Regions from separate parts of the Homo sapiens genome. Here all the other regions are linked to region 3. Evidence: fine-mapped expression QTL. A gene starts in region 3. Each other region holds a variant in brackets. All regions are shown on one strand. Distances are between the middles of the regions. Region 1 overlaps TPTEP2-CSNK1E (TPTEP2-CSNK1E readthrough). Region 2 overlaps TPTEP2-CSNK1E (TPTEP2-CSNK1E readthrough). Region 3 holds the start of CSNK1E (casein kinase 1 epsilon).

The links.
Region 1: its variant is fine-mapped to the expression of CSNK1E in whole blood (INTERVAL, PIP 0.96).
Region 2: its variant is fine-mapped to the expression of CSNK1E in tibial nerve (GTEx, PIP 0.98).

What each region holds. Positions count from the first base shown.
Region 1 is chr22:38,358,945-38,368,897 of GRCh38, forward strand. TPTEP2-CSNK1E (TPTEP2-CSNK1E readthrough) reads right to left here. Exons shown (of 15, transcript NM_001289912.2): 4 at 2,455-2,616. It also overlaps the pseudogene TPTEP2. Among named protein-coding and RNA genes, the nearest start is that of TPTEP2-CSNK1E, 35 kb to the right of the region's middle. The variant T/C (reference allele first, on the strand shown) is at 4,252.
Region 2 is chr22:38,287,921-38,297,873 of GRCh38, forward strand. TPTEP2-CSNK1E (TPTEP2-CSNK1E readthrough) reads right to left here. Exons shown (of 15, transcript NM_001289912.2): 12 at 6,422-6,614; 13 at 6,189-6,328; 14 at 5,335-5,399; 15 at 2,771-4,018. The coding sequence ends at 5,367. It overlaps CSNK1E (casein kinase 1 epsilon), which reads right to left. Exons shown (of 11, transcript NM_152221.3): 8 at 6,422-6,614; 9 at 6,189-6,328; 10 at 5,335-5,399; 11 at 2,771-4,018. The coding sequence ends at 5,367. Among named protein-coding and RNA genes, the nearest start is that of TMEM184B, 20 kb to the left of the region's middle. RefSeq lists enhancers at 1,335-2,044, 2,045-2,752. The variant G/C (reference allele first, on the strand shown) is at 5,726.
Region 3 is chr22:38,311,766-38,321,718 of GRCh38, forward strand. It overlaps CSNK1E (casein kinase 1 epsilon), which reads right to left and starts at 5,668. Exons shown (of 11, transcript NM_152221.3): 1 at 5,395-5,668; 2 at 2,317-2,404. The coding sequence starts at 2,392. It overlaps TPTEP2-CSNK1E (TPTEP2-CSNK1E readthrough), which reads right to left. Exons shown (of 15, transcript NM_001289912.2): 6 at 2,317-2,404. The coding sequence starts at 2,392. RefSeq lists enhancers at 2,937-2,996, 3,067-3,236, 3,257-3,306, 7,108-8,012 and a silencer at 4,996-5,385.

The sequences.
Region 1 (9,953 bases), 47 kb after region 3:
GATATGATTTAGTTTCTTGTTTTTTATTTTTCGTGTATCCATTGTTATGTTTTTTGGTTTGAGGTTACCATGAGGCTTGTAAATACTATCTTATAATCCATTATTTTAATCTTATAAGTTTTCATAAACAAGTAAAAAGAAAACTAATAAAAACTCTACAACTTAACTTTGTCTCCCTATTTTTTAACTTTTTGTTATTTCTATCTTATTATACCATCTATGTCTTGAAAAGTTGTAGTTAATATTTTTGATTGGCTCATAGTTTAGTCTACTTAGAGTAAGAGTAGTTTATACATCATAGTTACAGTGTTATAACATTCTGCATTTTTCTGTATACCTACTATTACCAGTGAGTTTTATACCTTCAGGTTGTTACTTATTGCTCATTAATGTCCTTATCTTTCTGATTGAAATACTCCCTTTAGCATTTCTTCTAGGACAGGTCTGGTGTTGACAAAATCCCTCAGCTTTTGTGTGGAAAAGTGTTTATTTCCCCTTCACTTTGAAGGATATTTTCACTGGATACACTGTTCTAGGGTAAATGTTTTTTTCCTTCAGCACTTTCAATATGTCATGCCACTCTCTCCTGGCCTGAAACGTTTCTACTAAAGAGTCTGCTGCCAGATATATTGTAGCTCCATTGTATATTATTGGTTTCTTTTCTCTTGCTGCTTTTAAGATCCTTTCTTTATCCTTGATCTTTGGGACTGTGATTATTAAATCCCTTGAGGTAGTCTTCTTTGAGTTACATCTGCTCGGTGTTTTATAACTTTCTTGTACTTGGATATTGATATCTTTCTGTAGGTTTGGGACGTTCCGTTACTATCCCTTTGAATACACTTTCTACACTCCCCACCTCCTCTTTAAGGCCAATACCACTTAGATTTGTCCTTTTGAGGCTATTTTCTAGATCCTGTAGGCATGCGTCATTGTTTTTTATTCTTTCCTTTGTCTCCTCTATGTATTTTGAAATAGCCTGTCTTCAAGCTCATTAATTCTTTCTTCTGGTTTATCAATTCTGCTATTAAAAGACTCTAATGCATTCTTTGGCATGCCAATTACATTTTTTGGCTCCAGAATTTCTGCTTGATTCTTTTAAATTATTTCCATCTCTTTGTTAAACTTATCTAATAGAATTATGAATTCCTTCCCTGTGTTATCTTGAATTTCTTTGAGTTTCCTCAACACAGCTATTTTGATTTCTTTGTCTGAAAGGTCACATATCTCTGTTTCTACAGGATTGGCCCCTGGTGTCTTATTTAGTTCATTTGGTGAGGTCATGTTTTCCTGGATAGTGTTGATGCTAGCAGATGTTCTTTGGTGTCTGGGCATTGAAGAGTTAGGTATTGATTGTAGTTTTCACTGTATTTATTGTAGTTTTCACTGTCAGGGCTTGTTTGTACCCATCTTTCTTGGGAAGGCTTTCCAGATACTTGAAAGAACTTGGATACTGTGATCTAATCTCTATCTGCTTTAGGGGGCACCCCAAGCCTCCTAAACTCTGGTTCTTGCAGACTCATAGCGGTACTGCCTTAATGGTCTTGGACAAGATCCAGGATAATTCTCTGCATTACCAAAAAGAGACTCTTGTTTTCTTCCCTTACTTTCTCCCAAACAAACAGAGTCTCTCTCTCTGTTCTGAGGCACCTAAAGCTTGGGGTTGAGTGACATAAGCACCTCTGTGGCCACCACTACTGTGACTGCATTGGGTCAGACCTGAGGCCAGCACAGCACGGGGTCTTGCCCAAGACCTGCTGTAACCACTCCTTAGCTATTGCATGAGTTTGCTGAAGGCCCTGGGGCTCTACAGTCATCACATGGTAAAAACAGCCAGGCCTGTGTCCTTCCCTTCAGGATGGCAAGTTCTCCTAGCCTCCAGGTGGATCCAAAGGTGCTGTCTGGGAATCAGGGCCTAGATCAAAAACTGTAAAAGTCTACGTAGTGTTTTATTGTGCTATGGCTGAGCTGTCACTCAAACCACAAGATGCAGTCCCTCCCACTATTTCCACCCCTGTCCAAAGACAGAGGAGCATCAATCCAGGGCCACCTCAAACACAGGCCATGGGGAGGTACTGCCAGACTACCACCAATGTTCTCATAAGGCCCAAAGGCTCTTAAGTCAGTTTGCAGTGAATGCTCCTGTTAATTATTTTTAAATGCTTTTTTTTTTTTTTCTTTTGAGACGGAGTCTCACCCTGTCACCCAGGCTAGAGTGCAATGGCATGATCTCGGCTCAATGCAACTTCTGCCTCCCAGGTTCAAATGATTCTCCTGCCTCAGCCTCCCAAGCAGCTGGGATTACAGGCAACCACCACCACACCCAGCTAATTTTTGTATTTTTAGTAGAGACGGGGTTTCACCATGTTGGCCAGGATTGTCTCGAACTCCTGACCTTGGGATCCTCCCACCTCAGCCTCCCAAAGTGGTTCTTATTATAAAAATAATCAAACTTACCCTTCTACAAATACTCGAAGAAGAACATCCATGAGAAAAAATAAGGCAATAGCTAGAGAAATAGAACGATACTCCAAAGGAATATAAAGTTTGCTGTCAGTGAAAATTAGGTCGGCAAGGACGAGAGTGACATCCAGTAAGACGAGGAAAACTCCAAATAGTCTAAAATAAATAAATAAATAAATAAATAAATAAATAAATAAATAAATAAATAAATGCAAAGATAAAGGGGCATTTGTCCCTATAGCTATACTATATTTAAGCCACTGATCAGGTACCAAAATGTTATTATTTAGTATTAAGCTGCCCAGTGGCAGGAAAAACTGTAATGCCTTAGAATCTCAGAAAAATCACTGTTTTCACCCAATAGAAGCAGTTCTTAATAAACAAAATTCTCACCAAACCACTTCAGAAGATATTATCATGGCCTTTTATAGTAGACACATCAGACCAACACCTCAAGAGAGAAAAAGTAAAACTGAATTAAAATCACCTGTGTCTGTTTACAAACTCTTCTTAAAATGTGAGAATTTCATAAGAAGTTTATACCAACTTCTCATAAAAAATAAACCCTCATTAATCTGGATAATTCTAAAGAATTTATTAATAAAAACCAAATGAAAGCATGAGTAACATAAGCTCTTAAAAGACCAAGATTTTTCATCAGTGACATTTTCAACAAGTCCATGATTTCATCTTTATGGGTGCTTCGAGCAGAGTGATGGGCACATGAGTCTTGAACTCTAAAGTACCTCCTGCCACTTGCTGTTACATATTCCAAATACATTCTCCATAAATTGATTCGACTATTTGCCTAATCTATGAAGGTGAATTAGTCTTTGAAGTACTTTTTTAAAAACTTGCAGCTCAAATTCAAATATTATTAATTCAAAAGGAAACAATTATATTGCATAAATCTATATCATATAGTATGAAATCTTACTCTTATGTAGTCTAAATAAATAGTTTCCAGAATTAAAGAGTAATTCCAGATGTATAAGGTACTAATAAAACACTTTACTAATAATTACAGAATTTTAACATTTGATTTTCATTAATGTTACTTTTGCAGATGGAAGAAAAACAATATGTTACTATTAATCTTAGGCAAAAGCCATTTATTTGCAATTCTTAATGTCCAGCTTAAACCAAAATTCCATGATAAATTAGATTACATTAGATGGGGCACATGGCTACTTAGCAACTGATGGACAGTGGAAATGCTTTTTTGTTATTTTATTTCAGTGTTTCTCATTGAAGTATTAAGTCTCATATATATATATATGTATGTATAGATATATATGAGACTCATTTTTTTTTTTTTTTTACATGGAGTCTTGCTGTGTCACCAAGGCTGAGGTGCAATGGTGCAATTTCAGCTCACTGCAACCTATGCCTCCTCGGTTCAAGCGATTCTTCTGCCTCAGCCTCCTGAGTAGCTGGGATTACAGGCACCCACCATTATGCTTGGCTAATTTTTGTATTTTTAGTAGAGATGGGGTTTCACCATGTTAGCCAGGCTGGTCTTGAACTCCTGACTTCATGTGATCCGCCCGCCTCGGCCTCCCAGAGTGCTGGGATTACAGGCGTGAGCCACCACACCCAGCCAAGTCTCAGATATATTTAATACATGGTGTTTTCTGTGTCTCACATACCCAAATGCAAAGGATGATACAATTGAATGCACAATTTTCTTAATCTTACTGCTGCAAAAAGAAGTAAAAATAAAATTAATCAGATTTCTTCTAACATATATTGTAAATTTAACCAAAAAACAAAGGCCCTTATAAATATAAT[T/C]TTAAAAGAAAATTATTCAGAAGTTGTATAACAAAATGCTTTTTACTAATAGCTAAAATGTTATTCTTCCTGCTCCATGAGTATTTTACTTGTTTACTATGCTATCCAGAAGACAGTAAACTTTGGATGTTTAGTAACATTTCCATTGCATGCAAAGCCCCAACCCCAACTTTATGGCAATACTAAACTTAAACTTGTGGTCATCATCTCAAGGAGTATAGCATGAAGACAGAAAAGGGTGGTAGAAGAGAACTGTATTTTAATGCCAGCCTGGGCAAATCATCAAACTTTGGCCAGATCTCAGTTTCCACTGCAATAAAATAAGGTTTCAGGAATGAGCATAGGGAGTAAATGATGCTCTTGTCATCCCCTCAAACTAGACACCTAGTGAGCAGATATACATTAGCAAGAGTCGCATATGAGGTTGCAAATGAACTTCAGAGGTAAGACATTTTAGTAAGATATACTTCAAAGGAGAAACACCCGAAAGACTGGGCTCCTTCCATTAATCAAAGGAAGGAGAACCTGTTTGATGGAGCCTCCAATAATGCCTCATTTTACCTTATGGCTGGAGACAAGGTAGCTCATGAGGAACAATTTTTTTTGTCCTACTGAAGCCTCCTGTGTTGGAAGCTCTTCAGGAGGAGAAGCCTCCAACACAGGAGGCTTCAGTAGGAGAAGTCTTCAGGAAGTTTCTGTCATACTGAAGCCTCCAACACAGGACTCAAATTCCACCCCAAGAGCCATGAATCCTAAGACAATGCTCACAGCCTGTGCCTAAGACTGGAGAACAAAGAGGGCAGATACTGAGCAGAACTGGGGCACTGACAATTGGCCTTTGACATGAACAGACATTTCTCAAAAGAAGACATGCATGTGGCCAACAAGCATATGAAGAAAAGCTCAATATCACAGATTAGAGAAATGCAAATCAAAACCACAATGAGATACCATTTCACACCAGTCAGAATGGCTATTACTAAAAAGTCAAAAAATAACAGATGCGGGCAAGGTTGCAGAGAAAAGGGAACACTTACACATTGTTGGTGGGAGTGTAAATTAGTTCAACCACTGTAAAAAGCACTATGGCAATACCTTGAAGAGCTAAAAGCAGAACTATTTGACTGAGCAATCCCATTACTGAGTAGATACCCAGAGGAATACAAATCATTCTACTATAAAGATACATGCATATGAATGTTCACTGCAGCACTATTTACAATAGCAAAGACATGGAATCAACCTAGGTACCCATCAATGACAGATTGGATAAAGAAAATGTGGTACATATATACCATGGAATACTATGCAGCCATAAAAAAAGAATGAGATCATGTATTTTGTGGGAACATCGATGGAGCTGGAGGCTCTTATCCTTAGCAAACTAGTGCAGAAAGAGAAAACCAAATACTGAATGTTCTCACCTATCAGTGGTAGCTAAATCATAAGGACTGATGAACACAAAGAAGGAAATAGACACTGGGGTCTACTTGAGTGGGGAGGGCAGGAGGAGAGAGAGGAGCAGAAAAGATAACTATTTGGGTACTGAGCTTAATACCTGGATGATGAAATAATATGTAAAAAAAAAAAAAAAACACCTCCCTGACACAAGTTTACCTATGTAACAAACCTCACGTGTACCTCCAAACCTAAAATAAAAGTTAAAAAAAACAAAATTGGCCTTTGATGAATGATGTTAGGTTAACCTGAGATAAAGGAAATCCCCAATCCTTCTAATCTTCCCCTCTCCACCTGGACCCACCACCTCCACCCAGGCTTGGAGAGTTAAGGCTGATATAGATGGAGGATCAATTGGCCAAAAGAGGTGAATTCTCTCCTCAAGTTGCCATTCCCTTACTACAAGAACCTCTGATCCCACACAGTCTACTAGATCTCTGGGTATCAAGGAAATGTCATAAATCTGAACTCACTTGACAATGTCACCATACAGAACCAAGTCTGACAGATTACGAAGGCATGAAGAAGTGGCTTGGGTGGCTTTAGCCCCTTAATCTGTTTGAGTGTCCCCTGAAACTATACCAAGTAAATACACAATTGAGACTTTTTTGGTTAAAAAGGTATACTATGTAAATGCAGCTTCAAGCAGTTATGTGCAGAGTTTGCAGGGAAATAACTATGACTCAGTAAATCCATACCCAGGAAAAGTACGGTTCACACTCGGGAACAACAGACAGATACTCCAACATGAAGCAACACGAAGCATAGCCTCCATGTACCTTTCCTAAAAACAATTACTCAAAGTGCTTGAGTCAGCTGAGCAATGAATCAAAATGAAGAACACAGAAATAAGGAAGATGACTTACAGAGAAAAGATGATAAATAATATAAACTCAAAATTAGGTAAGTCTAAATAATAATTGTTAATGTAGCATAAAAATGTAGCAGGTGAACAAAAGCAATGGCAACAAAAGCCAGAATTGACAAATGGGATCTAATTAAACTAAAGAGCTTCTGCACAGCAAAAGAAACTACCATCAGAGTGAACAGGCAAACTACAGAATGGGAGAAAATTTTTGCAATCTACTCATCTGACAAAGGGCTAATATCCAGAATCTACAAAGATCTCAAACAAATTTACAAGAAAAAAACAAACAACCCCATAAAAAGGTGGGCAAAGGATATGAACAGACACTTCTCAAAAGAAGACATTTATGCAGCCCACAGACACATGAAAAAATGCTCATCATCACTGGCCATCAGAGGAATGCAAATCAAAACCACCATGACATACCATCTCACGACAGTTAGAATGGTGATCATTAAAAAGTCAAGAAACAACAGGTGCTGGAGAGGATGTGGAGAAACTGAACACTTTTACACTGTTGGTGGGACTGTAAACTACTTCAACCATTGTGGAAGACAGTGTGGCGATTCCTCAAGGATCTAAAACTAGAAATACCATTTGACCCAGCCATCCCATTACTGGGTATATACTCAAAGGATTATAAATCATGCTGCTATAAAGACACATGCACACGTATGTTTATTGCAGCACTATTCACAATAGCAAAGACTTGGAACCAACCCAAATGTCCAACAATGATAGATTGGATTAAGAAAATGTGGCACATATACACCATGGAATAATAAGCAGCCATAAAAAAGGATGAGTTCATGTCCTTTGTAGGGATATGGATGAAGCTGGAAACCATCATTCTCAGCAAACTATCGCAAGGTCAGAAAACCAAACACTGCATGTTCTCACTCACAGGTGGGAATTGAACAATGAGAACCCTTGGACACAGGAAGGGGAACATCACACACCAGGGCCTGTCATGGGGTGGGGGGATGGGGGAGGGATAGCATTAGGAGATACGCCTAATGTAAATGACGAATTAATGGGTACAGCACACCAACATGGCACATGCACGAATATGTAACAAACCTGCACATTGTGCACATGTACCCTAGAACTTACAGTATAATAATAAAAGAAAAGTAGCAGGTGAAAATGTAAATAAATGATTCTGAAAGTAAAGATAATATAAAATCATGAATAATAGTATTGATTTGAATTTTTAGGCATTCTTACACTAGGATTCAAGGTGTGGAAGAAGATAGAAGTAAAGGCAGGTTGCATTTCTTATCTTTCACAGGTACAAGTCCAGTTTTATTCTCGATATTGATGGATAAAATGGTATAATTATGTTTTCTAAACATTTAAATATAAACATTGATAGACTAGAAATGGGCTTCTGACTTGCATATCAACAAAAAATGCAAGGGATAAAAACAAATCAATTAATTGCAAAATATAGACAAATTTACAAAGAAAATATCAAAGTATTTTTAATAAAGAAAAAGATGATAAATAAAACCAAACGTACCAGAAATCATAAATACAAACATATTACTCTCATACTGCATATTGAGAAATACTCTCAGATAACTTTGAAATTAAAGGCATTACATGCTATACACGAGAGACAAAAACTAAATTTAAATGACAATTCAAAAATAAAGAGATAGAGGCCAGGCACGGTGGCTCACGCCTGTAATCCCAGCACTTTGGGTGGCCAAGGTGGGTGGATCATGAGGTCAAGAGATCGAGACTATCCTGGCCAACATGGTGAAACTCCATCTCTACTAAAAATACAAAAAATTAGCTGGGCGTGGTGGTGCGTGCCTGTAGTCCCAGCTACTCACGAGGCTGAGGCAGGAGAATCACTTGAACCTGGGAAGCGGAGGTTGCAGTGAGCTGAGTGGCGCCACTGCACTCCAGCCTGGTGACAGAGCGAGACTCCGGCTCAAAAAAAAAAAAAGAGAGAGAAAAAAAGATATGAGATACTAAACCTTAAAACACTTAAAAGTTCCAATATTAATATCAAAGTTGAATTAAAAGCAAAAATATTAACTATGAACATGACTCATTTTTTATCAATAGAAGGTGGAAGCTACATGACACTAACAAGACCATGTTTAATGAAATGGGATTTGTATTGAAGGCAGGTGCTATCTCTCCCACTGGACACATTTTTCTCTTGTGCAGACTCTGGGGGTAGGGAGGTGGCCATGATGAAAAGCACGAAAAACACTGTAGTGACTCTGGTCTTCCTGCTCCCTCTAGATCACTAAAACAGGGTAAGGACAATACAGGGGGATGACATGTTCATGCTGAAAAAACTATGAGTCACTTAGGAGAAAAGTAAATTTCTACACTTTATACCTTAAGACAAAGTAAATTCAGGGCAGATATTTTATTTAAATGAAGAAAATAAATTCAAAACAGAAATTTTGGTGAATATGTTTAAAATCTTGGGGTAAGAAGGACTTTCTGAGAATAACATTAAAGGCAAAATCACAAAGAAAAGTACAGATACATTTGATTACATGAGGATGAAATGCTTTTATATAGTGAAAAGCAAGACAACCTGGGAGAAATTGCTTATATTACATAAAATAGAAAAAGGATCAATAGATTTAACTTTTCAGTCCAAAGACAGAAAAGGATAAATGAAGGTGTGTCAAAGAACGTGCATTAGAACAAATATATTTACTAATATCAGAGAAATCAATGATGGCTAGTGTTAAGTGTGGGAGGGGAGAAATGTACACTTTGCATCTTGATGTTAAAGCACATATCAGTATCAATAGCGTCACAATCATTCCCTTTGACACAGAATTTCCACTTCTGAGAATTTATAACAAGCAAATAACCAACAATATACAGAGATTTAGCCTCAAATATATTCATTTTTGTAACAGTTAAAAACTTGTAAAAAACTTAATTGTTCAGCAATATCTGACTATTAAATAAATTATATATAGCACATCTACACCATGAAATATCACACAACTGTTACAAATAATGTTGTAAGTGCACATGAATATATATTAACAAAAAAAATGATGTCATTAATAAGGTTATTTACAAAAGAATAAGTATGGTCTCATATCTGTAAACAAAAAAAGTATATGCTTGAAGAACTTAGAAGTGCATGCATCAAAGCTTAAGAATGACTATATGTGGGTAGATTTGTTGATTGTATTTTCTGATTTTCCTTTAATGACCTCTTACGTTATTTTCAGTTTTTAGAATAAAACCTATTTACAGATCTACAGAGTTTTCGAAGTATTTTTGCATGTTATTTTCGTTTTATTACTAATTTTTTACAATACAATATCCAGTACATAGATTGCATTATAGCCAGTTTACATTTGAATAATCTGAAAGTTAAAGA
Region 2 (9,953 bases), 24 kb before region 3:
AGGGGTTCGAGACCAGCCTGACCAACATGGAGAAACCCCGTCTCTACTAAAAATACAAAATTAGCCTGGCGTGGTGGCGCATGCCTGTAATCCCAGCTACTCGGGAGGCTGAGACAGGAGAATCACTTGAATCTGGGAGGCGGAGGTTGCAGTGAGCCAAGATCGTGCCATTGCACTCCAGTCCGGGCAATAAGAGCGAAACTCCATCTCAAAAAATAAATAAAATAATATAAGGAACATAATACGTTAACCTCGCAGTCTTTTTGGGAGCAAAGGGTTGGAAATGGCCTGGCACAGGTGAACCCTCAATGAGCTTAGCCCTTGTGTTCATCTGAGGTCTCACTGAATTCTGGCAACCCTCAGAAACAAGCATCATCAGCCGGGCGCGGTGGCTCCTGCCTGTAATCCCAGCACTTCGGGAGGCCGAGGAGGGTGGATCACGACGTCAGGAGATTGAGACCATCCTGGCTAACACGGTGAAACCCCATCTCTACTAAAAATACCAAAAATTAGCCGGGCGTGGTTGGGGGTGCCTGTAGTCCCAGCTACTCGGGAGGCTGAGGCAGGAGAATGGCGTGAAACCAGGAGGCAGAGCTTGCAGTGAGCCGAGATCGCGCCACTGCACTCCAGCCTGGGCGACAGTGCGAGACTCCGTCTCAAAAAAAAAAAAAAAGAAAGAAACAGGCATCATCACCTCCACATTACAGAGGAGGAAACTGAGATGTGCCCGAAGCCCCCAGGATGCCAATCCTGTGCTCCCAACCCTCCACGCCTGCACCACCTCCAGCCTAGTAGCTGGCACCCTGGTGCCCACACAAAAGCCCAGTTAGCAAGTGTTTTTTGTGGCATGAATGAAAATGACTCACCAGGTGCCTGTTTGCCCCCTCTGGTAGGGGCAAAATTTCCTTGTGATTATTTGGTGTACTTAAACTGTATGGTTGACGCATTAATGTCACTTCCTTAGAGGCTGTCAGTCACTGCCCACTCCCAAACATTAGCTCTCTAAGAAAGGAATGCAGGAAGAAGCATGATGGGTAGAAATGGGGCAGAGCAGCAGGGGCGGGAGGGATTCTCAGATTATAGCTTTTTAGACAGCTTGACTTTCGTGTATGTAAACACCTTCATATCCAAAAAATAAACCAAAAAAGAGGAGGGGGAGAAGCATTAGCTTATTATTAAAATTGATTAAATAGGGTGGGCACAATGGCTCATGCCTGTAAATCCAGCACTTTCGGAGACTGAGGTGGGAGGATTGCTTGAGCCCAGGAGTTCAAGACCAGCCTGGGCAACACAGTGAGATCTAATCTCTACAAAAAATACAAAAGTTAGCCAGGCATGGTGGCACGCACCTGTGGTCCCAGCTGTTAGGGAGGCTGAGGCAGGAGGATCCCTTGAGCCTGGGAAGTTGAGGCTGCAGTGAGCCATGACTTCACCACTGCAGTCCAGCCTGGGTGACAGAGCAAGATCCTGTCTCAAAAACAAAACAAAACAAAAAAAAAAACAAAACTATACTTTTCACTGTAAAAGACAAAGACCAGCTCCTTATTATTTTCTCTCAGGGCCTCTAGTTGGTAACTTCCACTCGCTGTCTGGTGTCAGGTTGTCCATCCCAGAAGGTCCTAAAGTCCAGGGAGGCAGGGGAACTCTCTGCTGCATTCCCCCAGCACCTCATTCAACCAAGTGCGGGTGAACAAAATGGCTCTTCGCAGGCTGACCAATTGACCACTGACTCCTGGCTGCCACCCAGCCCCAAGGCCCAGGCTCTGCTTAGCACCTGCCATTCCAGGGCCTACTGGCATTTCCTGGCTTTGGTAACACACCTGATACCTGATGCCTGTAAAGGGGACCCACCTTTACTTGGGCCTCACACAGCAGGAAACCCTCCACCAGGCCGTGAGCCTGTGGGTCACTGGGTCTTGACGGCCAGCACTGGAAGGCGCCTTGACCTATGTCCAGGATTTCAAAACGCCCGAGGGGAACCTCCCAGGGCCCTCCATCCGCTTCCCAGGCAGACCTATCAGCCAGACAGCTTCCGTCTTGCCTCTGGGTTGAGACTGTGGCAATAATGGCTCTTCGGTTGACGAAAGGAAGTAAACTGTGTTGGGTAAATGCAGATGGACAGATTCTTTTCCAAGCTGGTGAGACCAAGGCAGGCGAGGCTGAGCGCTGCCCTTTTATCAAGGCTTGACTGAAGGACCTCATCCAGAGTCACTATCAGAGCTCGCTCCAGCACTCTCCTTCATGGAGCCCCAGGGTCAGCAGTGGAGAGGGTCAGAGCACCCCCACAACCCCCACAGCGAGATGACCTCGGCTCGTCTTGCCTCTGCCACCAGAGCTGTGACTGTGGGCAAGATATTTTACAGCAGGACCAGTTTCTTGTCCGAAGGCAGGGCTATTAACAGGACCTAACTCAGGATACTTGTGTGGATAAAATCATGTGTGAAGAGCTTTTAGGGCCTTGCTTCTCAAAGAGGGGCCCCAGGCCATCAGCACACCTGGAGTGTGCAGGGGGAAGCTCTCAGCCCCACCCCAGCCCTCTTTACAAGACCCCCGCGTGGCACCTGTGGCGTGGCACCTGTGTGCACTCGTGTTTTCAAAGCCCCCGGACATCCCAACCACAGCCCAAGTGTTCTGAAAGTGGCCCCAGCCACACCTGCCTTCAGGGCGAGGGCTTGTTCCTCACTGACTCCTGCTGCTCCCAGCAAGACCCACTTCCGGGTCTGCAGGGAGAGGCCCTAAGGGCACAGAGGTGGACAAAGGGCTGCCTGCATCACTTTATCTTTTCTACTTTATTACTTCAAATTAACAACCACGATAAAGCTCAAAAAAGTCCAATATTTACACAGGAAAAAAGTACAAAATTCCCCCCAAAGTTCTTCAGTTTTTTTTTTTTCAGTTTTTTAAATTACAAAGTAATAAAAAGCTTTGCTCTTTAATTAAAAAAAAAAAGGAAAAAGGGGAAACAGAGGTAAATAAATTAGGAAAACACACACACGGAGAAAACAAACAAAAATAAAATAAAATAAAAACAAAAAGGTGTTAACTAGGAAGGATGGGTTAATCCAAAACCCAGCCCTGACTCCAGGCTCCTCCTCAGAAAGGTGGAACCAGGGAGAGGGGGGACCCCAGGTGACTGTCAGGACCAGGGAAGTAATTTATAACTCAGAGCCAGATGCCTTCTGGAAGCAGTCTCCATGGATTCTGCCCTAAAACCAGGAATGGAAGATGGAGCTGCCACCGGCTGATGACGGGCTAGGGGGGGACCGGTGGCAGCGAGGACCCTCTGAGCTCTGAGGGATGCGGAGGTCACCGCCCACCCCCATGTCCTTGTTAGTAGACACAGGAGAACGGGAATTCGGGCTGGCAGGCGGGGCGGGCCGTGGCACCTGCTGTCTTGGGAAACACAGGTCAATACATCCACACACACACACACACACACACACGCAGGGGACGCCGGCCCCCACCACCTCCCCACCCACTCCATGGAGAGGCAGAGGAGGAGCCTGGAGGCCAGGGGGACAATGGAAAAGCCCAGCACGGGAAGTCAGCCACTGTCATCTCAGAGTGGGTGGGGCTGTGCGTATCTCCTGGATTCTGAGGCTCGGAAAACTCGGTGGGAACTGCCTTCAACTGACTACACCACTCCCTGATGATGCTTGAGGGCCGGCTTTGGCTCTGGGACCTGTCACTTCTCCGACACGGACCCGACCCGTTCCTCTCCAGGCAGGTGGTGGGTGGGGGCAGGAACAGGAGGCCGGGCAGGCCCTGGCGTCTGGCTCCTGTAGCCTGGTGTTGTCAGGGGAGCATCTGGCAGCCTGAAGGTTGGGGGCAGCGGGCACCACAAGGGGGCAAGAATCCTCAGTGCTGAGGGCATCTCATCTTCTTGCCATTGGCAAAGAAATCAAAGAAACAAACTCCATCGTCGGTTTTGTGCTGGGTTTTTTTGTTGTTCTTTTGAGTGGTTTATTTTTGCCTTTTTTTTTTTTTTTTTTTTTTTAAAGAAAATACAGTGAAGACACTAGAAGGGAGAAGGGAAAAGACAGGTGAGGTACACAGCTGTCTCTGGCTACTTTTTTTTTTTTTTGAGATGGAGTCTCGCTCTGTCCCCCAGGCTGGAGTGCAGTGGCACGATCTCGGCTCACTGCAACCTCCACCTCCCAGATTCAAGCAATTCTCCTGTCTCAGCGTCCCGAGTAGCTGAGATTACAGGTGTGTGCCACCACACCCGGCTAATTTTTGTGTTTTTAGTAGAGATGGGTTTTCACCATGTTGGCCAGGCTGGTCTCGAACTCCTGACCTCAAGTGACCCACCTGTCTGGGCCTCCCGAAGTGCTGGGATTACAGGTGCGAGCCACTGCACTTGGCCCCCCAAACTCCTGTCTTCTCGTCCCTTGGTCTATCTCCCTCTGGGCCCCAGAGCCTGGCTCAAGGCCCAGCACGCTAGGAGATCCATCTTCATGTGACAGAAACGGATTCTCTCCCTTCTCTGCCCTCCTGGTGAGCATCTCCCCACCCCACCCCCAAATATCTGCCCAGCCCGCCATGGACAGCTTGGTTCCTGGGCCTGAGATCCGAGGAAGGCCAGCCCTGTTCATGCCTCCACTCTCTTGTGTGGATGAATTTCTACAAAACAGACCACACACAGATTGTCCCAGTGTAAAGTTGAGTCCCCCGACGTGTCGGACTACTGCCTACAAATGGACACACGTTCCCCAGAGAGCTCAGATTATACCCTCGAGAAGCCCAAAGAACCCCTGCCGCCTCCCCTTCCCCAAGCCAGGCCCCAGAGTGGGGCGTTTCCATACCCCGCCTCAAGGCCTGGTACAGTCCGGGAAGAACCAGCAGGCTCACGCTGGCCAGAGGGCCTCTCTCAGTCCTACTACAGAGGCATAAAAAGGGCTCCTTTGCTTCCTCCACAGCCCTGTTGTGAGTCTTGTGCAGGAATTAACTTGCGTAACAGCCCAGAGGCTGAGACAGGGCTAATGCCGTGGGAGAGGTCAGAGTGTGAGCCCATGGCCCCGTCTCTGCTGGGAACCAACCTTCCAAAATATGTTAAGGCAGAAGGAGATAGAGACCTGGCCGAGGGCAGAAAAAGTTTTTCCAGCAGAAACTAATCCATGAGGGGTCAGGCCTGAGCATAGAAACCCTTGGCCCCAAGTCAGGCAGCCTCCGAGGTTTTAAACTACTTGAGGCCCCTTAGAGTTCTGGGGCGCCTGGTACCATCTGCCACTGCCACTGCCACCCACCCCTCCACAACACATTGGTCTCTTTCTGGGGCCCTGGGAGCTTCTAGGTCGGCTGGGCTGGCTGCATCTGCAGCAGTCATGGACTCACCTAAGCAAACACTGGTCCAATGGGGGCTCTCCTCACTTCCCGAGATGGTCAAATGGCACACTTGTCTTTTGAGGGTGGGGAGGGAGAGAGGGGGAGGGAGAGAGAGGGAGGTACAAGCTTCAAGTCAAGTCCCTTAGCCGCTGGCGATAGAGATTTGGCAAGTCTCTCCCCACTGAGGAGGTGTACCCCCACCCCCACCTCCAGGCAGCCCCTCAAGCTGAGGGAAGGCCTGTGTGATTCCAGTGACTCTAAGATGTCCCTGTCTGTAGCTAAGAATGTTGCCCAGGGAGGCAAACCTGCTACCTAAGTAGATGGCCAATGAGGGTTCTCTCGCAGGACTCCCTCCTCGCCCACAGGCAGGAGGACGAGGGCAGGGCTCCCACCCACCTCT[G/C]CCAGGCCACCTGCCCTGGGCAACTACAGATTCCCCCTTCCCAAGTGTCCCCATCCAAACATAGCCCCAAAGAGGATGGGACCTCACTGCCCCTACACCCCATGCTCTTGCCAATGCTCACAGGGGCTCCTGGGGGCTCCCTGATGTCAGGGAGCAGCAACACCTCATCTCTGAGCCCCTGCTGCCCACCCTGGCTGGGCCCCTGGCAGCGAGGACTGGAGCCCAGCTGTGCCACTTGCCAGGGAATGTTACTGCCCTGAGCCTTGGTGAATGACTTTGCTCAAGAGGGCTCATCAGACCTCAGAGGATTAAATGAGGCCAAGTCCTGGCTCTACAGAAGGGGTTCACTCCAAGGCAAGCAGCGTCGATGGAAAGGGAAGAACAGAGCCACGGCCTGACCTCCCACTGGGGGGTCTCTAACTCAGTTCTGAGGCCCAGAGGGACTGGCAGGGGGGCAGCTCACCTGTGAGGCTGGGATCCGGGAGACCTCTTGCCGCCCAGTGAGGTCTGAGGAGGAGACGTTGGCGGGCGCACCCCTGTGCAGCCTCATACTCACCTTCCTCTCCCGGTCGACCCGCGAGATCGCTCTGGGAGAAGTATTGCCTGGAGGGAGAGTGGGAAGCCACCCTCAGAGTAGGCACAAACAGAGCCCCCCACCCACCCTGAACCCAGCCCACTGCCTGAGTCCCTGCTCACCAGCCGGCTGGATGCGGGAGGCTGGCGTGGAAGCCACGGGCTCGGCGGCACTGCGGAGCCGGTTGGCAGTGGCCCCCGTGGGTGGGCCAGGGGGCAGGGCTCGGGTCGCGGACCCCCGTAGCTGCCCCATCCTCTCCTCGCGTTCGTGTTCTCGCCGCTCCCGGTCCACATCCTCGGGATTCCGGGCTGCACCCTGCAGGGATGCAAGAAAAGACACCAGTCAGCCCCAGAGGCCAGGGTGCTCTGGGCCCAGCAGCCCTGCAGGGCACAGAAGGGGAGGGAGGCCAGGTGGATATCTCAGAAACCTTCTGCTCCAGCCTCCCTGACAAGCGCGGGAAGCCAAGACCCACAATCACACAGCACAGAGACACGAAGCCACACAACCACCAGAGGAAGGAGAAAGCAGGAGTCTGGGGGCAGAGGGAGGTCAGTCTGCCCTGCTCTCCTGGGATGGAGCCAGAGAAAGGACAACTAATGCGCCCAGGATGATCAAGAGCACCTCTTGGCCCTCCTGACCTGGGGCTGGGCCTGCCCTGGCCCCCCTCTGTGTACCAAGAGCCCTTAACTACTCAAGGTTGCTAAACCGAGCAGGAAAGCTGTTTAGAGGCCTCTAGCAGACTGGCTAGGGGTGTCCAGAGGGGGAAAAGAACAGGCCCAGAGTCACAAAACTAGTGGAAGGCTGGGCTAGGACTCAGACCAGCTCTCCCGGTACCTAGCCAGGGGCTCTTCTCATCAGGGAGCTGTCCTTCCCCCTGCCGGGACCTGGCAATGGCTTCTGGCAGGTGCAGTGGAGGCCACAGCCAGGAGGCCCAGGGAACCCACAGACACCGCCTGCCTTGGGACAGAAGCTCAAGGGGAGCTGGAGAAGAAAATGGGGCCACGTTCCCCACGGAGGAAGAAGAGGCCCAGCAGGCAAAGCTGGAGCAGAAGGGGTACCCTAAGCCCCCAGGTGCCCTGCTGTCCAGCCACTGCCGCCCCTGGTGCAGGAGGAAGTGAGAAGGGGCCAGAGAAGAGCATATGTGGGGGCAGCGCCCGACTGCGTTACCTAGTTCATCCTGGGGCCGTCCACAGGGAAGGGCAGGGGGCTGGCAGGAAGGGGGCCGCATCTGTGGAGGAGAGAGCTCTGGGCTGAGTTGGGGGCCTGCTCATGGGCACAGGGTGTGGTTCCTGCAACCCATGTCTCTCCCAGGAGACTGGCCAAGAGGTGGGGGTGGGCCCTGTCTTTAAGCAACTCCAGGAAGTAGTGGCTAGGACCAGAATGATCCCTGAATCTTAGTGAGGCACCAAGGCCCAGAGAGGCCTTGTGACCTGCCCGGGGTTGCACAGCTCAGGGCAGAGCTAGGGTCTGAACCCAGGCCTCTGCCACCTAGTCCCACTCTGCTCTCTGCACCCCAAGAGGTCACTGTTCAGAGTCTTGCCTTAGAACACTCTAGAAGATGCATCTTCCCATCCTCCCACCCAGAAGCCTCTCAGGCAGGCCTGGGACCACCGGGGCTCTAACTCCTGACCTCCGGTCCTCACCCTGGGCTCCCACTCGGTTGCAGGCTGGCCAACAGTGACTCAGCCAGAGCCACAGCAAAGCCTGGGGAGGAACACGAGCTGTGGCACCTCCGTGCCGAACCTTCTGCGGGCAGAGTCACATCAACCCTGTGAGGCAGGTCAATCTCATTTCCATGCTTGGGATACAGAGGCTGAGTGACTCACTCCAAGGTGTGGAGCCCTGCAGCCAGCAGCCAAGCAGAGGGCTGGAGCCCCTGCCCTTTGTGAGCCCAGCAGGCTCAGGCCATTGCCAGCCCCGAGGCAAGAAGTGGGCGACTCTCCATGGTCCCATCCAACCCATAGGACGCAAGAAACACACAGCAGGGAGCTCTCTTGGCCTTTATTGCCCATAGAAAACATAAAAGGTCAGCAAAGTCACACGAGCATCCACCCGTCATCATATGGACCTCTGTCCTTGGCTGTGTTGAATTCCTTCCCGGCCAGCTGACTGGACCTCGGAACACAGTGGCTGTATGTGCTGAGAGTGGCTTCCAGGCCCCAGGGATCCACAGATCCCAGCACCCCGGTGCAGCCAACAACACAGGGTGTCCTGTCTACTGTTGGGTAGCATGGGAAGGGCCTGGCCTCAGGGTGAAGGTTCCCATTGCATGTTTTCCAGGTGCTTCTGCCAGGGGACTGCTGGAGGTGGTTCAGCTCACTACAGTGGCCGTGGCATTGAGTCAGAGATTGGCAAAGGATAAGGCTGTGGGTGCCTCTGCCCAGCTTCTAACTCCAGGGCCTGCCTCAAGAGGGACTTCCAGGAAGGCGGTCAGACCAGCAGCAGTGGGTGGAGAGGTGCTCCTGGCCTGGTTGGAAAAGAGATCTTGCTGGCTAGACAGTCTTGTGAGACTCCATAAGGGAGGAACCTAGAGCAGTGATGTCCACAGAACGTTCTGGATGAAGGAAATGGTCCCATCTGCCTTGCCGGATGTGGTGGCCACTGGAGGGCAGTGGCATGATCTCAGCTCACTCCAATCTCTGCCTCCTGGGTTCAAGCGATTCTCCTGCCTCAGCCTCCCAAGCAGCTGGGATTACAGGAACACACCACCATGCCCAGCTAATTTTTGTGTTTTTAGTAGAAATGGGTTTCACCATGTTGGCCAGGCTGGTCTTAAACTCCTGACCTCAAGTCATCCGCCCTCTATGGCCTCCCAAAGTGCTGGGATTACAGGCATGAGCCACCAGGCCTGGCCGACATTTCCAGTCTTGATTAATTTTAATTCATTAAAAATGTGTCGCATGTGGCCAATGGCTACCATCTTGGACAGTGTCCGTCTAGAGAATACAAAATCCATTCTTGCAGTTGTGCTGAGCTGGAGGGCCAAGCCCATCACGAACCAGACGTGGGAGTGACTATCTCGATAAGAAAGTGCCCAGTGCCCAATGCCCTGTGGTGGAAAGAGCTGGTCCCAGGTGCTCAAGGCCATGGGCCCCATTTGGAGCCAGAAGGTCTAGGGTGAAGTCAGAGAAGACGTCCCCTGCCCATATCCCATTTCCAGCCTTGCTGAAAAGGGCAACAGAGGCCTCTCCCTGAGGTCCCTAGCCTGCGAGACCCCCATTCTCTGCCTGACCTCTGTGTTACTCCTTAGTGAACAAGAAACCCAGAGAGAAGAGAAGCCCAAGACCAATGTGCCGACCTTGGCTTCCAGGAGAACAGAGCCTTGGTCCTAACCATCTAGCAGGGTGGCTGAGGGCCCTGCCATGAAAGAGGCACACCAGGATGAAGCAAGAGGAGGTGTTTAATGAGTTCTGGTTCAACACAGAGGCCGCCAACGGGGTCTAGCTATGAGTCTGTCCTGGGACCCGTTCCCACCAGGCCCCTTGTGGGCAGTGGCCACCATCCCTCCCTCAGGCTGTCCTGGCCCTCAAGGACCCCATGGCAGGGCCTTTTCCACCATGGCCTCCACTGTGCTGCCATCTCTTGGGAACAGGGGGTCATCCCATCCTCCCAAGAAACACTTCCTCAGGCCTGGCCCCGATGGGCTCAGGCACA
Region 3 (9,953 bases):
GAACCTGGACTGGCCCCCACATCTCAGCCCTTTTCTTTCCTTCTTTTTTTTTTTTTTTTGATGGAGTCTTGCTTTGTCGCCCAGGCTGGAGTGCAATGACACGATCTCAGCTCACTGCAACCTCCACCTCCCAGATTCAAGCCATTCTTCCGCCTCAGCCTCCAGAGTACCTGGGATACAGGCATGTGCCACCACACCCAGCTAATTTTTGTATCTTTAGTAGAGACAGCGTTTCACCATGTTGGCCAGGCTGGTCTCGAACTCCTGACCTCAAGTGATCTGCCCGCCTCGGCCTCCCAAAGTGCTGGGATTACAGGTGTGAGCCATATCTCCTGGCCTCCTTTTTTTTGAGACATGGTCTCACTCTGACACCCACGCTGGAGTGTGATCTCAGCTCACTGTAGCCTCAACCTCCATGGCTCAGGTGATTCTCCCACCTCAGCCTCCTGAGTAGCTGAGATTACAGGCGCGTGCCGCCATGCCCAGCTACTTTTTATATTTTTCTTGTAGAGATGGGGTCTCACCATGTTGCCCAAGTTGGTTTCGAACTCCTGGACTCCAGCAATCTGTCTGTCTTGGCTTCCCAAAGTGCTGGCGTTACAGGTGTGAGCCACCGCACCTGGCCATCCCGGCATTTTTCTATTCTGCTGTGAGGCTACTGTGCATGTCTGTGCATGTCACAATCCCCATTTTCTCATTGGTTTGCTTGACTAGCCTTCAGTGAACACCCACTGCGCTGGGCACTAGCAGATATTACCAAATGCCTGCCTCCCCGGGAGTAGCTTGGGGTCGCAGAGAAAAACCTTTAAACCAGCTGCACCACACACTCTCCCTCCCTCTGAGCTCCAGGGTGTCCATAGGGGAGGCTCATCTACTAAGCACTCAGCAATGAACTGCACATCTGGCTGGCACTTTAGAGTTTACAAAATACTTTCCCATCTGTCATTTCATCTCTGCCTTGGAACAGTTCTTGGTCAGTCAGGCAGCATTATCACAAACTACAGATGGGGACACTGAGGCACAGAGGAGCTGCATGACCTTCCCACAGCCACACAAAGCCACGTCTAGAACGCAGAGCTAGACGTCTAACGTCTCCCTCGGCATGTTCTGTCTTCCACGCTCTCACTCATGTGGAGGGCTGTGGGCATACAGGCTGCTTCTGCCAGTTTTCTAGAGCGGTCTTGGGAGGCCAACTTGACCATCTGTGCCTCAGTTTCCTGATGTGCCAAACAAATAATCTGGTACTATCTCTAGGGGCTGCAGAAAGTACCCTGCAAGGAAGTGGTCAGGGAACTCCCAGTCTCCGTCCCCGTCTCCATTGAGGCTTCCTTAGCACATTTCATACTCCAAGGAACCCTAACCATGGGGTAACAGAAACCCCGAAGTTCTGAGCTGATGGACACGACACACAGACTTGGTGTTCTCTGCACTGGACAGAGCTGATTTTCATTTTCCAAGGAGGGTAACCAAGGCACAGAGGTGTGTCTAGCCTGCTTCTGAGGGTGCAGGGACAGGAATGAGGATAACTCGTAGAAGGGCTGGCCACCTCACTCCAGCAACTTCAAGCCTCCACCCGCTAATCCACAAGCACCAACACTAAATACCTTCCCTTTGGACCAATAAGCACAAAGGAAGGGCCAAGACTCATGACCGTGCCCCTCAGAAGTGGCACTGAAAGGCGCAAGCCTCATTTCTCCCAGGCCAAGGGGAGGACTGAGAGGTCAGTGATTTGTTTAAAATGCAACATCACAGCATACTCATACTTTCAACAGGAAGCACATCCGGAGAGAAAAAGAGAGAGAGAGAACTCCCTAATGAGGAGACCGCATCCCCCCACCCCACCCCCGAGGTTACAGGGGAGCCTGCGTCATCCCAAAGCCTGCCTGGGCTGGGTTCCAGGAGGCCAGGACATAGAGAGGGGGGCCTGGCTAGGGGTCCAGCAGCAACCCAAGTCCCTTCTATCTACCAATATCCTTCTCCCAGGAAGCAGGGGAGAGGATGTGAACCCCGCCTGGGTTTTCCCACACCCAGCTGGTGACCCAGCTGACCCGGGACACTGAGGCACAAAAGAACCGCATGACTCCTGCAGAAACTGGAGCTAAAAATACCCTCCAGTGCCCAGCCTGGCCTGCGAGAGGAGCCCCCTGGCCTGCCTCCCGGCAACCTGCTGCTTCCTTCCCCATCTGGGATGGCCCTGGGGCAAATCATGCCCCTGGAGCCACATTCTGACTTCAGATCCCCAAATCCTGGGGTCTTTCCTCCTCTTGGTCCCATGGGCTGGCCCCAGGGGCTCCAGCTGGAGCTAGGAACACTTACCCAGGTAGATATCTCCGAAGGACCCGCTCCCGATCTTCCGTCCCAGGCGGTACTTGTTCCCCACACGTAGCTCCATGGCTCACTCTTGCTGCAGAGGAAGCAGGAACATGAGGGTCAGCGACGTGGGGAGCCGGGAAAGGGGTCCAGTCCACCAAGGCCAGGCAGAGCCACCAGGAACTCGAAAACCTGCATTCTCGAAGACCACATTCTGCAGGTGTCAGGTGGCCCACAGCCTGCACTCCACACACCTGGGGAACAGCTAAGGCAGGCTGAGGACAGGTTTCAGTGTGGCCAGAGAGGAAGCAGCCAAGCAAGCATGTCTTTGGGGGATGCTCATTCAGGGGCCCCTCAAAAGAAGCTTCTCAAGGGATCACAACGGGCATCAGCCCTCTTACACCTCCTACCCCCCAGGCTCCCACAGCCTGGCCTGGTCTTCCCAAGTACTGCCCCTGCCCAGAGGCCAGACCTCGCCAGTGCCCAGCACGCCTTGCAGGAGAAAGTCGCATCCCCTACTGGGGGGAAGGCAGAAAAGAATGCCCTCGACCATCCACCTTCCAGCCACCTCCCCATCTCTACGTCATGACACCAAGACCTCACACGGAGGCCCATAGCCGCTTGGATAAACTGTTTGGAGCTGGCGTCCTTTAAGACTAGGAGGGTCTCCTAAGAGGGCCCTCATAGAACAACAAAGGGGACTGAGCCAGGGTTTTAGCCGCCTGCCCCGGATGGGTGGGAGGAGGAGTTCTGATGTGAGCAGCTTCTCTCCTTCCTCAGGGCCAGGGGGGAGCCCTCTGCTCTGGCCTGGGGCAGAGGAGGGACCCCTCTGCTCTGGCCTGGGGCAAAAGTCCGGACACCCTGTTCCTGGTCAGCAGAGGAGGAAACTGAAGGCCTGGAGGCAGTGCTGCCGTGGGGACAGGGACCAGGGACTGCAGTAAACAGGGGGAGGGGTGTTTACAAGAGGACCAGCATCAAGGACTAGCAAGAGGGAACTCCTTTCACAGACAGGGTACTCAGGCTCACAGAGGCCATGCCACCTGTCCCACACCACCCTGCAGATGGTACAGCCTCGCCGAGGACAGGGCTCCGGCTGTCCCACCTGGTGGTCTCCCACACTCACAAACAGGGCAAAACAGGAAGACTGCAGAGCAGCTGTGCTGGCACAGAAGATCAGCCCCTTGCCCGTGCCAAGTGCTGCCCCCAACAACCAGGCCAGCCTGGGAGGGAGATGGATTCCAGGGACAGTGGGCAGATCCCAGGAGAGACAGGGAACCCCGGCACCTGGCTCCCAAGGAGCTCACCAGCCCTCCACCAATAACCACGAGGCAGGGACCTCCACCAGAGCTGGCCAAACTCTGGGCTCTCAATCAAGGGCCGCTGCCCATATGCTTGGCCTGTCTCAGCTGAGGTGCCACGCTGCCAGGGGAACACAGTCCACGTTTGCAGGAAACCCACACGCCACACATCCCACGTACACACACGTCCAGCTTCCCGAGTGTGTACACTCCAACGGAAGAAAGAAAAGCAGGCACACACAGTGAGCCCTGTTGGGGGGTAAGGGGGGGTGTGCACGCAACCCCCCCCCAACACCTCAGTCCACTTTCTGCCAACACCAATTCAGAGACCACACATGGCAGCCAGGAAACCCGCAGGTTAGGAAAGGAACATAAATATACCCGCATCCTATATTACATAAATACCCACGCCGGGTTATATAAATACCCGTGCCCTCTGTCTGGGTGTCTTACATAAATATACTGCACATGACCCCCCAGTCTCTCCCCACTCACCGGCTGTCTGCAGAGAACGAGAGCGGGAAGGGGCAAGCCCTTCAGGACCCCCTGACTGCTATGTGCCAGCCACCCAGACCCCCAGTCGCTCCCCAACACCCCAGGGGTCCAAGGTCCCTGGGGGAGCCTAGACTGTCCCGGCACCAATACCCAAAAAGCCTCCCAGAGGAGAGCAGAAAAGCTTCATTCAGGAATGGAGAGGCTTTTCAGTTCTTTTGCTGCTTCTCCCATGGGGGAGGGGGGGAGATAAACAAAGTGGGGGGAAAAGTGGATATAAAGGTTCAAGAGTTTCAGCAGGTTAAAAAAATTAGACAAACTACCAACCAGCATGGCACACGGGCAGTGCTTCTTACTCCCCGAACACCATCGCCTACCCCTGAGCCGGGGCCCTTGTCCCTCGGACGATTAAAATAAAAATTGAAGGGACATCATAGAAACGAAGGCAAAGGAGACCCAAACACAGGCATTGCTTGGAAGCAACTTGAGACACTTGTGTCCCCTTCTCCTCTCTCCAAATCCTTCTCCAGGAAGGAGGCTATGCCAGGAAGAAAATATGCAAGAAAACTAAGGGAAAAGTTGGGGAGGGGGCTCACCCCACTTCGAGTTAGGGTATTAACAAGAGCTTGGGAATCCTCTAACGACACCCAGACACTGTTTTGCGTTCCTTAGAGACTTGCAAGACATCAATCTCTCACACAAAAATGGGAGAATCCGATCCGACAAATAACCCCCACCCCTTTCTTTCTCTCCACAAAGAAAAACAAATCAGTGGCCTGGTGACCACACACCTCTTCACCTTAGGACCCCCAAACGCCCGTCATCCAACGAGCGGGCGCAGCCTTGCGAACCCCCAGGTCCGGGCGCCGGGGCCGGGAGAGCAGGGGGCGCCGGTGATTGTCCGATGAAACGCTACGCGGGCCCGAATCAACAGTATCCGGCGCCCAGCACCCCAAGCCCCCTCCCTCAGCGTCCCCAAATCACAGCCGGGGTGGCCGCCTGGCCGGCCGGGGCCTCGGAGGGCCCAGCGGGGGGAAGCGGAGGCAGGCCGGCCGGGGGGCCTCCCCCGCGAGCCTGCAAAATAACAGGCCCCCTCCTCCTCGTCCCCAGCCGCGCCTTTGTCCTCGCCGGGCCGAGCGGGCGGCGCCCGGGCTGCCCCCCCTACACCCCAGCGCGAACGCGCGTGTGTCTGCCCTCCCTTCCCTCCCTCTCCAGCAAAAACAAAGAGGCTGAGGGAGCCCGATTCCCCCCAGGTTTGCACCCTTCCGCGGGCCCGCGGCCCCCCGATATTTACCCCGCCGGGAAGGCGCCGATGCCGGGCCACTGCTCGGGGGGCTGCCGCGGGCGGGGGCGGCCCGCCGGGGCGGATGCCGGAGGATTCGCGGAGCCGCCCGGCGCGCCAGCCTCTCCCGGCCCAGCCGCCGCCGCCGCCGCCGCCGCCGCGCTCCGCTCGGCCCCGGCCGGGCTCTGGCTCTGGGCTCTCGCCGCCGCCGCCGCCGCCGCCGCCGCCTCCCTCCTCCCGGCCTCCTGCCCGCCCGCCCGCCCCCGCCGCCGGCTCGCGCGCTCTCGCACCGCGCGCGCCCGCCGGCTCCCATTGAGCCCCGGGCCCGCCCGCTGATGTCATCCCCGGCCCGCCGCCGCCGCCCCGGAGGATTTAAAGGGCCCGCGCCCTCCGCGCTGGGGGCCGCAGCTGCGAGACGCAGTTCCCCAGCCTCAGTGCAGGCGCGCGGGCTTACGCGTGGGGGTGGGGGAGCACACAGATACTGACACCCTAATGCAGTCCAGGGCACAGGTGGAAAAGACGGGGTGCGGGGGGGACAGAGGGAAGAGGAGGGCGCACAAAAAGCGGAGGTGAGGGGATGGGAGGGGAGGGTCTAGACCCAAAGTCTCCTCTCCCCGCCTGCCAGGATCTCTCTCCTCTCCAGGCAGAGCACTGGGCCCCTGCGAAAACAGGCGGCTATTCACGACACTGCAAAAGATGTTAGACTGCTGGAGGCTCAGTCCGCCTCCAGGTTCCGAGTGCCGCAGAGAACACAGGCCAGGTTGATTCAGGGCAAGAGATTTGAGGAGACAGCTAGGGATGTCGACACAAGGCCCAGAAAGGTAGCCTGGGCTCATACATTCTCCTCCCGTGGAAAAACGAAGGGCAAAGACCTCTTCTTCTTTTCCCTGAAGCTCAAACTGTGATGGGCACAGAGAGGACCCCTCAGATCCCAACCTCATTCTCCCCTGTTGAAGGAGGGGTGCCACAAGTACCAAAGCACCGACACTTGAGTCTGGGCTCCGAGTGGTGCACGTTTAGCCAAGCCACCTCCCAGCTCTGAGCTTGGGTTTCCTTAAACAGCAAATGGGAGGAAGGACCCTGTCCTCCCCAGGTCACAGAATTAATAAAAGCTTCTACCGGCATGCAGAGCCGCGATGAAAGGTTGCAGAACAAAGTCATTAAAGTGATGATATTTACACTGAGCCATGCAAAGCTTCCAATTATGACACACCTATATTCACACAGTTGTGACTGTGGACACGCAAAATGCCTGAGGCCCTGCGTCCAATCCCGGAAGCACAGTTCCTGGGAGGAGTCACTTCTATAATAGCCGTATCTTCCCTCCTCGAGGCTGAGGGACTGAGTCACACACGTGTCCAAACGGGCAGGAGCCCCACAGACTAAGTCCTTTCGCCGGCCAGGAAACTGGCCCAGAGAGGGGAAGGGCTTTGCCCAGGACCACAAAGCCCAACAGGACAGCTCTGTTCTCCCAGCGATCACCAGGAAACTGGGTCTATCTAGAGCCCATTTCCAAGAGCAGGAGAGTGAGAAGCCTCCTCCCAGGAGGGCCTGCCTTCAGTGACACCTTTGCCAGAGCAGGGGGTCACCAGCCAGGTGGTGGGCTTTACTTGGCCTGCGCGGTGCTTTCTGTTGTTGTTTTGTTAATTAATCCCCAAAGTTTTTTTTTTTTTTTTTGCTTTTTGTTTTTGTTGGTTTTGAGATAGAGTCTCGCTGTGTGGCTCAGGCTGGAGTGCAGTGGCTCAATATCGGCTCACTGCAACCTCTGCCTCCTGGGTTCAAGTGATTCTCCAGCCTCAGCCTCCCTCCTGAATAGCTGGAATTACAGATGTGCACCACCACACCTGGCTAATTTTTGCCCAGGACCACACAGTATTTTTAGTAGAGACGGGGTTGGCCAGGCTGGGCTGGAACTCCTGACCTCAAGTGATCCGCCTGCCTCGGCCTCCCAAACTGCTGGGATTATAGGCGTGAGCCACCATGCCTGGCCACTCCCCAAAGTTTTAAAACTGGAAGATTTCATATTTCAGATCCAGATTCCCTGTTTCTCTGGGGGCATTAGGAGATCCGGTAACTCTGGGCCCAAGTTCTCAGCCGGCCTGAGCGCCACCCCACCGCCACCCATTTTGTTTCTTTCCTCACATGAGCCCAGGCAGAGAGGCCTGGGCACAATTGAGCAGGGGGTGAAGTCTGCCCCTGTGTCCTCCAGTCCTTACCACCCCTAACCTTCCAACCTGGGCCCTGCTTCCCAAAGCCCTCCTCTTCTTCAGCACTTTCAAGGCAACCAGCCCTGGGAGAGGAGGTTATTTGTTATCTCATTTAATCCTCTCAAACAACAACAGATTACACTGTATTCTTTCAGAGAAGGAATCAGGCTCCTCCCAGTGCTTGCCTAAGGGCACAGATCAACCTCTCCCTTAAACTGGGCCTGGCTGGAACAGACCCCCTGCCCCTTCCTAACCCAGCCAGATCGCCAGGTCTGACTGCAGCACGTTCACGTTCTCCCCTCTGCATTCAGGACTTGTAACCACACCTCCCACCCCAGCACCCCCACCCCACCCCCTGCCCCAGTTAAGATCCTGCTCAGTTCCCTGGGCCAGCCAGGCTGAGGAGCCCGGCTCATCCCCAGGCCTGCTAGGGAGCCTCCCTGCCTTGCCATTGGAAGGACATGCTGTTGTCCACTGCCTGAGTTGTGGGCCCAAGTCCTTGTCCTTCCTATCCCTGGAAGACCTGTGTGTGGGCCCTTCCAAAGAGCTTTGCAGTGAAGCTATAAGGGAAGGCAAACCATGACACAAAACCCAGCTGAGGAGGGGAGACTGGTCCAAAGTGAAAAACAAAACCTTACGTGTTCCAGCAGCCCCACAGCCTGACTTCTCTCTCCGACTTGGTTCACAGTGATTCCTCTCAGATTTAACTCCTAACTTTAAAACCCAACGGTGGGGCCGGGCACGCCCCTGTAATCCCAGCACTTCAGAGGCCAAGGCGGGTGATCACCTGAGGTCAGGAGTTCAAGACCAGCCTGGCCAACACGGTGAAACCCCGTTTCTACTAAAAATACAAAAAATTAGCTGGGCACGATGGCGGGCACCTGTAATCCCAGCCACTCGGGAGGCTGAGGCAGGAGAATCACTTGAACCCAGGAGGCGGAGGTTGCAGTGAGCCGAGATCGTACCATTGCACTCTAGCTTGGGCGACAGAGCGAGACTCCGTCTCAAAAAAATAAATAAAAAACAAAACAAAACAAAAAACCCAAGGGTGTGGCAAAGTTCCCCTAGCTACCTTCTCTGCAAGCCAACAAGAAGATGAAATCAGGCTAGAATAGGTGTGGGGTGAATTGCCAGCTCCCAAGGGGCCCACCCTGGGTTTCAGCTGCTCTGCATTGGTTCAGGAATAGTGGCTCTCACAACACCTTTCCAAACTGGCTTTTGTCTTTTTTTTAGAGGCTCATTCTGTCACCCAGGCTGGAGTGCAGTGGCAGGATCATACCTCGCTGTAGCCTCAAATTCCTGGGCTCAAGCGATCCTCCTGCCTCAGCCTTCCAAGTAGCTGGGACTACAGGCATGCACCACCACACCCAGCTAATTTTTAAATTTTTTATAGAGATGGGGTCTTACTGTGTTGCCCAGACTGGTCTGAAACTCCTGGGCTCAAGTGACCCTTCTGCCTCGCCCTCCCAAAGTGCTGTGATTACAAGTGTGAGCCACTGTGTTCCCAAACTGACATTTTTTACCTGCTCCCTATTTCAGACCCTTCAAGATCACTTGGCACGCAGGAGCACTGGGCTGGGATCCCAAGGACAGCCCTGGAATTCCCAGATAATGACGATATGGCTGCAGATAAACCCAGAAAGATTTCAGTACCTGCCCCAGGAATCTCAGTCTTGACTAAGGACTCATAGATTTACTAAACATCAAGGGCTGGCCTGAAAACGGCCCTCCAGGATCTGTCCTCCACTCCCCGCACCTGGCTCTCCTGACCTCAGCTCCTGTAAGTTTTCTTCTTGCTCACAGCCCTGTAGCCTCACTGGCCTCCCATGGAATGAACCTCTGGCCTCAGGGCCTTGGCAGGGGCTGTTTCCACTGCCTGGTGCGCTCTTCCCGCAGAGCACCAACCCCCCTCACCTCTCACCTTTCTCAAGTCCCCTTCAGAGGTAGGCCCTCCTGGTCTCCCAGTTTATTTATTTATTTATTTTTTGAGACAGAGTCTGGCTCTGTCTCCCAGGCTGGAATGCAGTGGCCCGATCTCGGCTCACTGCAACCTCCGCCTCCCGGGTTCAAGCAATTCTCCTGCCTCAGCCTCCAGAGTAGCTGGGATTACAGGCGTCCACCACCATACCTGGCTAATTTTTGTATTTTTAGTAGAGATGGAGGTGTCACCATGTTACCCAGGCTGGTCTTAAACTCCTGACCTCAGGTGATCCGTCCGCCTCAGCCTCCCAAAAAGCTGGGATTACAGGTGTGAGCCACCACGTCTGGGCCCAGTCTCCCAATTTAAAATCCTGGCGCTGGGCCACAGGCGGTGCCTCACACCTGTAATCCCAGAACTTTGGGAGGCAGAGGCAGGCGTTGCTT